2 separate regions of the Homo sapiens genome follow, and region 1 is linked to region 2. Evidence: fine-mapped expression QTL. A gene starts in region 2. The other region holds a variant in brackets. All regions are shown on one strand. Distances are between the middles of the regions. Region 1 overlaps UGDH (UDP-glucose 6-dehydrogenase). Region 2 holds the start of UGDH (UDP-glucose 6-dehydrogenase).

Region 1 (5,000 bases), 23 kb after region 2:
TTTCCACTGAAACTGAATTTTTGTGAATAGTGGGGCACAAGCAAATGAAGGAATACTTTGGGGTTTCATTGCTTGTAGCTTGTTTCCACAGAATTTGGAGACACGGACTAAGGATAGTATGGTTTCCTATGTGCCTTATTTAGGTTGGTCTCATAGCTGAACCTCAAATGCGCTTAGAATTAAAACTTGGTTGTGCGCTCCACTTTTGGCATCCATCCTAGCCTTATGCATAGAAAATCAAGCCAAATGAAATTAGAAATTTTTAGAATGGCTTTTTTTTTTTTTTTAAATTTACGGCAGGGTCTGGCTCTGTCGCCCAGGCTGGAGTGCAGTGGCATGATCTCGGCTCACTGCCACCTCTGCCTCCTGTGCTCAAGCCATCCCACCTCAGCCTCCCAAGTAGCTGGGACTACAGGCACATGCCACCTTGCCTGGCTAATTTTTGTATTTTTTGTAGAGACAGGGTCTCGCCGTGGTGCCCAGGCTGGTCTTGAACTCCTGAGCTCAAGCAATCGCCCACCTCGGCCTCCCAAAGTGCTGGGATTACAGGTATGAGCTACCACTGCTGGCCTAGGATGGCTTTAAGGAAGGGGATGAGTGATTTTTTTTTTTTTTTAATCCATAGGCACTAGAGTTTGGTTAATTTTTGCCTCTTGTTAATATGTAAGCATTGTATTTGTACAATAGCACTCACCATAAAATTCTGAGTAATGTGTGTCATAGGCTGTGCCTCTTTTAACTAATCATTGCACAATTGTACATGTAATTTCAGGTCATAGACATGAATGACTACCAGAGGAGGAGGTTTGCTTCCCGGATCATAGATAGTCTGTTTAATACAGTAACTGATAAGAAGATAGCTATTTTGGGATTTGCATTCAAAAAGGACACTGGTGATACAAGGTATCAGTTTTTAAAAATATTTCAACCCTTTTGAGATTGTGTTAACTCCTCATCTTAATTTTTTGATTGGGGTAGGTGTACATAAAATACATGTATATATATAAAATATAAAGAATAAAAATAAATATCCATATCTTCACCACTCTACCAGCTTCAGAAATATAATTTTACCTGTATCTTAAACTCCCTGGTATTAGAATATAATGCCACATAAAGCTTACCAATACTGATTTTTTTTTTCCTATAGAGAATCTTCTAGTATATATATTAGCAAATATTTGATGGATGAAGGTGCACATCTACATATATATGATCCAAAAGTACCTAGGGAACAAATAGTTGTGGATCTTTCTCATCCAGGTGTTTCAGAGGATGACCAAGGTAAGGCTTTGAGTCTCATGAATCATTTTGAGTCCAGACCTGAAAACTTTTTATCTTTTGGAAACCTTAGGTTGTTCAGTTTTATCATGTATATCATTGGTAGGCCCTCTTTTCAACCTCATTTCTCTGAAATTAAAGTCTTAGGCATAATGTCATCAACATTGATTTGAAGTGATCAGCTGTGGATTGGTCCATTGATTTTTCCAACATACTCCACAAATCCCCAAAATTCCAAAGAGATGCTTCCAAAGCAGGGTTTGGGGCCTCCCACCATCACTCCCATTGATACTGCAATCAGATTATTCCCAACTCTTCCTGCAGTCCTAGTGTTAGAATACCTATAGTACTATCCCCTTATGTGTGGTTTTGCTTTCCACGGGTTCAGTTATCTGCGGTCACTTGCAGTCTGAAAGTACTAGAAGGAAAATTCCAGAAATAAACAATTCATAAGTTTTAAATTGTGTGCTGCTTCATCCTGCCTGGGACATTTATCATTCCTTTGTCCAGCATATCCACATTCCATATGCTACTTAGTCACTTAGTAACTTTTGGCAATCAGATTCAAAAAACAGGTATGTGTGTAAGTATATATAGGGTTCAGTACTCTCCACAGTTTCAGACATCTACTGGGGGTCTTGGAATGTATCCCTGCAGATAAGGGGGGAACTACTGTAATGTCATATAACTCCTTTCTTATTTCTGTTTTTTTGTTGTTGCTATTGTTACAGTGTCCCGGCTCGTGACCATTTCCAAGGATCCATATGAAGCATGTGATGGTGCCCATGCTGTTGTTATTTGCACTGAGTGGGACATGTTTAAGGTAAGGTAACAGAAAAGATACTAAGGAAAATTCTAGAGGTGTTCCACTATCAGCTGGGGTTGAGTATGTGTTCATGTATGTGTTTTTTTGTTTTTTTGTTTTTTTTTTTGAGATGGAGTCTCGCTCTGTCGCCCTGGCTGGAGTGCAGTGGCGCAATCTCGGCTCACTGCAAGCTCTGCCTCC[T/C]GGGTTCACGCCATTCTCCTGCCTCAGCTTCCTGAGTAGCTGGGACTACAAGCTCCTGCCACCACGCCCAACTAATTTTTTGTATTTTTAGTAGAGACGGGGTTTCACCATGTTGGCCAGGATGGTCTCGATCTCCTGACCTCGTGATCCACCCATCTTGGCCTCCCAAAGTGCTGGGATTACAGGCATGAGCCACTCCGCCCGGCCCACGTATGTGTTTTAATTGTTCCTGTGGTTTGTCTTTACAGGAATTGGATTATGAACGCATTCATAAAAAAATGCTAAAGCCAGCCTTTATCTTCGATGGACGGCGTGTCCTGGATGGGCTCCACAATGAACTACAAACCATTGGCTTCCAGGTAATCATGATCCTGGATTGTTTTTTTTCTTTTTGTTTGGTCTTTAGTGTTTGATTCAACAACTGGGGACTATAATCTAGTCAAGTTGACATCAAAAGACCATCACAGCAGGTCAGAATATGTTTGGCTAATTAAGATGATACCTTCTTTCTAGGGAAGTTCTTTTGGGGAACCAAATCAATATCAGAAGTTTATTTCAACAATTAGGAAAGTGCTCATTTGCTTTTTAAACCCATTGTGTGGGTTTTAGAATTTTCTTATTTTCTTTAGCAGTAACGTAACTCTGGGGCAACATGTCAGTTCTTTAGGAAGTCCCTATGGGATTTTTCTGACTACTCTACTTCTCTACTTCCTCCCTAAATTTGCGATCTAAAGGTAGAGAAAGAAAGAGGTCTTGGTCAATCAGCAGGTGTTCATCCTATACCTTCTGAGTACTCAGCACTGTGCCAGTGCTGTGAGGGGTCTGAATGAAACATATGGGAGTTTCAATGGTACTGGCCCTCTTCTGATTCAAAGTTTGTCAACTGGCCAGGCATAGTGGTTCACACCTGTAATCCCAGCACTTTGGGAGGCTGTGGAGGTAGACCACTTAAGGCCAGGAGTTCGAGACCAGCCTAGCCAACATGGTGAAACCCCGTGTCTATTAACAAATACAAAAATTGCTGGGCGCGGTGGCTCACGCCTATAATCCCAGCACTTTGGGAGGCTGAGGCGGGCGGATCACAAGGTCAGGAGTTCGAGACCAGCCTGGACAATACTGTAAAACCCCATCTCTACTAAAAATACAAAAATTAGCTGGGTGTGGTGGCACACACCTGTAATCCCAGCTACTTTGGAGGCTGAGGCAGGAGAATCGCTTAAACCTGGGAGGCGGAGGTTGCAGTGAGCCAAGATCACACCACTGCACTCCAGCCTGGGTGACAGAGCAAGACTCCGTTTTGGGAAAAAAAAATAATAAAAATTAGTCAGGCTTGGTGGCCTGTGCCTGTAATCCCAGCCACATGGGAGGCTGACGTGGGAGGATTGCTTGAGCCCAGCAGGCAGAGGTTGTAATGAGCTGAGATCATGCCATTGCATGCCAGCCTGGGTGACAGAGCAAGACCCTGCCTCAAAAAACAAAAAACAGTTTGTCAATTATGGAACATTTGGAAAGCTGACAGAAGCCTCCACCCAGAACAGTGTTTTTGTAGGTTACATCTATTTCAGTTCTCCAAGGAGTCCCAAAGGTATTAATAAGGAGCTATTTTCCATTTCCTCAGAGCAGTATGTATATGGGGATAGGAGGATGGGGAGGTGGAGTAAGTTAGGGAGAATAAAAAAATATGCCAGGGGGTTGTTGTCAATGTAGTGCCCAAGCAAGCAGAAAAGCAGCAGTGTTTGACAGCTTGCTATGCACATCTCAGCACCAGCTATCTTGGAGAGGTATCAGTAAGGCCTAATCTGCTATTCAAAAATATCTGATCTGGTTCTCTTAACCTCTCACCAACTTGTTGAAGGTCCTTATTTAGAATTCAGTGCCCATTTCTCATTCATGAGAGATTTACTTGTGGAAAGAATCAAATGGCATCCTTGTCTGTGAACTCTTCCATCCAAGACCTTGGGGACTCTTCTATTCCACCCCTCCCTAGTGAGTAACAACATGACTGTTTTTCCCAGTCATGACTAAACTCAGGAATGTTATTTTTAAAAGGTTATTTGCAAGGCATAGACACATTTTCTCTCATTCCTGTTTTACTCATCTAAGGGAAAAGATATGTAGAGAAATACATATTTTAAATGATTTTAAGTTATTGTAAAAGTTAACTTTCCTAGTGAGAAATTAAAAAAAAACAGGAATGGAATCACTAAATAAGGAGAATTTGTAAGTCACTGAGACAACTGGTTAATATAAAGCAGAAGCCCTTTCTTTGTGGTACGAGTCAGAATTAAATATTAGTTTTTAATTCAAAAGACATGAAAAGTGAGTAGTATGTTTATCTCTGCTGTGGAGGGGAGATAAATTCATGACTGTTGAAGTAGTAGTGTTTTTAATGATAAGATGATGATTTTGAATATATGGAATAAATGAAAAATGTAATAGGCAAAACCAAAATTGATTATCATTTAGTGAAGGCTGGCTTGCTGTATGCTAAGCACTTTACCTAATTTAATACTTACCACGACCCTTTGAGTTAAGTGGTGGTAACACAATTTACAAGTGAGGAAGAAAGACCTAGAGAGTTTAGGTAATGCAGCAAGTGCCAGTCAGGATTCCAGCTGGGGCCTTTCAGACTCTGAAGTCTGAATTCTTAAGAATTATGCTGGCCGGGTGCGGTGGCTCACGCCTGTAATCCCAGCACTTTGGGAGGCCGAGG
Region 2 (5,434 bases):
TTAACATAAATATCATATTTTAATGAAAAATTACTATATTTTAAAAACAAAAGATAAGATTGGCATTGTTTTACATTTTTGTAAATCTCTAATATCTGACTTAAAAAACAGCTTAATTCTATTTGCTTTGATAGCACATTATAGTCTCCACAAAACTTCATTGTACACTTCTGAGAGAACAAGAGTGAAAAAAGCAAGTAACACATGAAAACTTTTTGACCTCATGGATCCCAGAAAGAACCTCGGAGATTGTCTACAGTCCCCAGCTCACATTTGGAGAACCTCTGTCCTAAATCCAAAGGTCCATTCTAGCTGGCACTGAAAATTGACTTAATTTCTGAAATCCTATTAACCGTTTTGAAGAGTCTGATTCTACCAAAATACTAAAAAAGAATGTGAGGTGAATACTAAATAGAAAAATGTTGAATTCAAAATGAAGGGACTAAGATAAGTGGTTTTTATTACAAAGCAAACTGTATTAGATAACTTAAATCTATGTATGTTCAAAAAGATGTACTTGTCATATCTAGTGCAATTACTTGTTTACATATCTCTTCTACCCAACCTGTGAGCTTTGCAAGAAGGAAATGAGTCTTTTTTGTTTGGTTATTTTTCTGAGACAGTGTCTCGTTCTGTTCCCCAGGCTGCAGGGCAGTGGTGTGATCTCGGCTCACTGCAACAGGGAGCCTCCTGAGCAGCTGGGATTACAGGTGCCCACCGCCTCACCCGGCTAACTTTTTGTATTTTTAGTGGAGCCGGGGTTTCACCATGTTGGCCAGGCTGGTCTGGAACTCCTGACCTCAGGTGATCCGCCCGCTATGGCCTCCCAAAGTGCTGGGATTACAGGCGTAAACCACCGTGCCTGGCCAAAGGAATTGAGTCTTAATCCCTTTTGCATCTTCAGTCTTTAGGATAACGTCTGACACACAACAGGCATTAAATATTTGTTGGATGAATGAACTGAACTGCATAGAATGCAGAAAGCCTACATATACTGGCCAGGCACAGTGGCTCACACCTGTAATCCCAGCACTTTGGGAGGCCGAGACGGGCGGATCACCTGAGGTCAGGAGTTTGAGACCAGCCTGGTCAACATAGCAAAACCCGGTCTCTATTAAAAATATAAAAATTAGCCGGGCATGGTTGTGGGCGCCTGTAATCCCAGCTACTCGGGAGGCTGAGGCAGGAGAATCGTTTGAATCTGGAAGGAGGAGGTTGAGGTGAGCCGAGATCGCACCACTGCACTCCAGCCTCGGCGACAAGAGGGAGACTCCGTCTCAAAACAACCAACCAACAAGCCTACATATCCTGCCACACGTGCTACAATCCACAGCAAACTGTTTCATCCACATTCAACCACTTTCTTAAAGTCACCATCATGATCCTATCAAGAAAACCGTAATTTATATGGTATTTTAATGTGCCTTTATAAATTACTAATCACTTTCTTCATGATGTATGTTAAAATGGCTTATGTCACCTGATGTAATCCTTAATGAGGGAAATAAAAGGCCATGATTATGCCTGGCTTTTTTTCTTATATGTTAGATTTGAGTGTTAAAATGACCTCGAAGCGGCGAAAGAAAGGAACGGAACTGCCCTCCACATTAAAAATGAGCAGGCTCCATAGGTTAATTTTACTCTTCCTCACGCACGGCACTTACATGTTGCAAACTCTCTGCTCCACAGCACGCACAGACATCCCAAATCCCGGATTGGGCCTGAGGAACATCTCTGCAAAGAGCGCCAGGAGGGCGTGGGGGTCCCGCCTCTCTCGCCAGGGACCAGGGAGTGGACACTCACTGGTCCAGTCATGAGGAACTCAGCATCCTCCTGACGGGAGGCGCCTCTTTCCCAGAAGCGGTGGGTCAGGAGGAATCTGACTAAACCCTGGGTTGCCGGCCCGGAGGGCGCGGTTGACCCCGGGGCCTCGAGGTTGTGGGCGAGGAGTAATCCGCCCGCCGAGACCGACCCGCAGATCCAGGAGACCGAAACCCGAGGGCGGCGCTCCAGGGTGCTGAGGAGACCGGAAAGGCGGCCAGGACCTTCCGGTCGCCTCGGCCCACCACCCACCCAGTGTCCGCGCAGCCCTAAAGCCTGGCAGACGCGGAGCGCACGCGGCCTTTGCCTCGGCCAGGACAGGGCAGCGGGGAGAGGGCTGCTAGACAACAATTCTTGACCCCTCCTCGACCCACGACCGCCAGGTAGGCGCGCAAAGCTCCTACACCTGCGGCGCGCCCCCGTCCCCTGGTCCAGCGGACACGCCACGCACGCAGCCCCGCCCAGCGCCGCTCGCGGTAGGGGCGGAGCCGCTGAGCTGGCCAAAGCGGATTTGCCCAGCTAGGCCAGGGGCGGGGCAGGCCCTCCCAGCCAGGACCAGCCCCAGTCTCCCCGCCCCTGAGCCGTGAAGGAAATAGGGACCTGGCCCTGGGCCTTGTGTAGCGGGAGGGGGAGCTAGGAAGCAGCTGAGGGCAGAATCCAGGAGGGCCTGGCTGCGGGGGAATGAAGCCTCCGCCTTCGCAGGCAAAAGCCTTTAAATACGGGCTCAGGCCCGGGACTCAGAGTGTAACGCGTGGCAGCCTGAGGGAGGGGCGTGCGCCGAGAGGGAGCTCAGATCGAGCGGGGCGCGGGTGGAGAAGCTGCGGCGGCGCGGCCCGTAGGAAGGTGCTGTCCGAACGATCGGGATAGGAGCGGTCCCTGCGCTTGCTGCTGGGAAGTGGGTAAGCGCCGCTCCCAGGCTGGCCCCGCCGCCCGGGCGGGATGCTCCCAGGTCTGGGCGGGATGTGGAGGGAGCGGGGCTGGGGTGTGCGCGCTGCTCCCGGTCGCTCGCTGCGCTGGGTCCCGGGCTTCCCGTCTCACGACCTTCGTCTCTTTGGGGCTTAGGGCGGGAACCGCATTTTGGAACTGCTGTCCTGGGGATGTGGTCGTCTGGGCTTCTTATTCAAGACTCGTGAGTCTTCCAGCCCCTTCTCTTTCTGCCTTTACCCACTTTCCTGACTTGGATGAGATTTCCCTGCCGCCTCCAAAGCCGAACGCCCACCACAGGAAGCGGTTCTCTCGTTGGGGACCTCATTTTGGCCGCAGAGTCGTAGTCTTTTGTTTGTGTTTAAGAGTCTGCTCACCTGAGGGGCTCCTGCTTTTCTCATGCCGCCCCTCTTAAGAAACCAAAGAGAAACGAAGCCAGAAAGCCCTCTTGAGAGCAAAATACTAAGACTGCCGTGATATCTGTCCGGGATGTCCTGGAATCCATTGTTGGCCCCCTACACCACAGAATTGCTCTGTTTGATGTCGGGGAAGGCCTTTCCTGGGTGCCTCGGGAGACCATGTTTGTGTGAGATCTTGAAAAATTATACGTCCTATAAATATATAGGAAGATAACTTAGTAGGGTTAGGAATTCTAGTATAGAGAAAAGAGGGGTTCGCTGGTAGGGATCTATTCATGGGCATACAGAGCAGTAGCTGTCTATCGACAGACCTCAAAGACACAGTGAGCCTTTGAGTTTCTTCAAATCCCTTAAGAAATGGAGAACAGTAGTCTTTCTTCAGGGGGGTTCTGGAAATGAAAGAGCTGACTGTCTGCTCTGAGATGTGCTTATTAGTGGCCAGGATCCAGTTTAAGGTAAGGGGTAGACAACCCTGATTGAAAAGATCTCATTTCTTCTCCCGTTGCTGTACTCCTTTTTCTAACAAAATCTATAACTGGATAAGCATAATCCATCTTCCTTCTTGTTTACTTCCACAGCTTTACATGATAACCCTTAGACATAAAATTAATACCGGCTTTCTTACTGATTAAATATTTTTCTCTGGTCAGGCATCTTTTACTGTTTAATTTCTGGAAATGATTAAAATGTGTGAAGCTGATGTATCCAACTATAATGCCCATCGTTAGCTCCTGGGTACCTATGCAAAATATGCTGTAGAGAGCTGGGGCTAGAAGGATTATATTCCGTTTAGATTGTAGTAGGGCATTTGTTATTTGTTAGTGACCCCTTCTGGGTTGGAATGTTTATTTGAATTTATGAAATTTTACATGAAGAGTAGTTTTGGAACGGTTTGGTTTGTTGTGACTCTCCCAAAATACAGAGGTAAAAACTCATTTCAAAATAACCCATTTAATAAGGAAACACTCCTATGTCTCTGACAGCAGAATAGAGGGCCAGAGGGTACATAAAAGTAGAAATAGAAAATGGGGGCCGGGCGTGGTGGCTCACGCCTGTAATCCCAGCACTTTGGGAGGCCGAGACGGGCGGATCACGAGGTCAGGAGATCGAGACCATCCTGGCTAACATGGTGAAATCCCGTCTCTACTAAAAATACAAAAAAAAATTAGCCGGGCGTAGTGGCGGGCGCCTGTAGTCCCAGCTACTCGGGAGGCTGAGGCAGGAGAATGGCATGAACCTGGGAGGCAGAGCTTTCAGTGAGCCGAGATTGCGCCACTGCACTCCAACCTGGGCAACTGAGCGAGACTACGTCTCAAAAAAAAAAAAGAAAAAGAAAAGAAAATGGGGCTGGGCGCAGTGGCTCACGCCTGTAATCCCAGCACTTTGGGAGGCCAAGGTGGATGGATCACCTGAGGTCAGGAGTTCGAGACCAGCCTGACCAATATGGTGAAACCCCGTCTCTACTAAATATATAAAAACTAGCTGGGCGTGGTGGTGGGCACCTGTAATCCCAGCTACTCGGGAGGCTGAGGCAGGAGAATTGCTTGAACCCAGGAGACGGAGGTTGCAGTGAGCCGACATGGTGCCACTGCACTCCAGCCTCGGTGACAGTGAGACTCCGTCTCAAAAAGAAAAAAGAAATAGAAAATGGAGTTGGCAGACATCTGTGTCATGCAAAGTGTGTCACTAACACTATGTCAAACTCCATGTTAAAGCTTATTGAAGATTTTATTGAAACTTCCAAGTGAGCATTTATTTGGACTTGCACAGATTGTACATCAGCCTTTTCATTGATTCTCCCATTGTCATCGGTAAGCCGTATTTCATGGGAAATAGCAAGGCGAGAATACCCAAAATAAAGCTTGTGTAAAACACATCCAGTTCTGTGATACAAGTTCACCTGCCATCAGTAGTCTATCCCAGCTGATGTATGTAAAGCAAGTTGAAATGTGGTCTCACAATCAAGGCAGATAAGAAGTAACTCTGGGGAAACATGCTGAAGTTCTTTAGGTAACTCAAAAAAAGAACTTGGCCAGATGCGATGGCTCACACCTGTAATCCCAACACTTTGGGAGGCTGAGGCAGGTGGATCAACTGAGGTCAGGAGCTTGAGACCAGCCTGGCCCACATGGTGAAAACCTGTCTCTAGAAAAAATACAAACATTAGCTGGACATGGTGGCGGACACCTGTAGTCCCAGGTACTTGGTACTTGGGAGGCTAGGTGGGAGACTCACTTGAACCTGGGAGGCGGAGGCTGCGGTGAGCCCAG

What was found. PIP is the estimated chance that this variant, and not a neighbour inherited with it, causes the effect.
Region 1: its variant is fine-mapped to the expression of UGDH in whole blood (TOPMed, PIP above 0.99).

The regions. Positions count from the first base shown.
Region 1 is chr4:39,501,521-39,506,520 of GRCh38, reverse strand. UGDH (UDP-glucose 6-dehydrogenase) reads left to right here. Exons shown (of 12, transcript NM_003359.4): 8 at 773-903; 9 at 1,151-1,284; 10 at 2,013-2,104; 11 at 2,536-2,646. Among named protein-coding and RNA genes, the nearest start is that of UGDH, 23 kb to the left of the region's middle. The variant T/C (reference allele first, on the strand shown) is at 2,288.
Region 2 is chr4:39,524,569-39,530,002 of GRCh38, reverse strand. It overlaps UGDH (UDP-glucose 6-dehydrogenase), which reads left to right and starts at 2,564. Exons shown (of 12, transcript NM_003359.4): 1 at 2,564-2,720. It overlaps UGDH-AS1 (UGDH antisense RNA 1), which reads right to left and starts at 2,164. Exons shown (of 5, transcript NR_047679.1): 1 at 1,665-2,164. RefSeq lists an enhancer at 1,680-1,739 and silencers at 2,120-2,419, 2,670-2,849.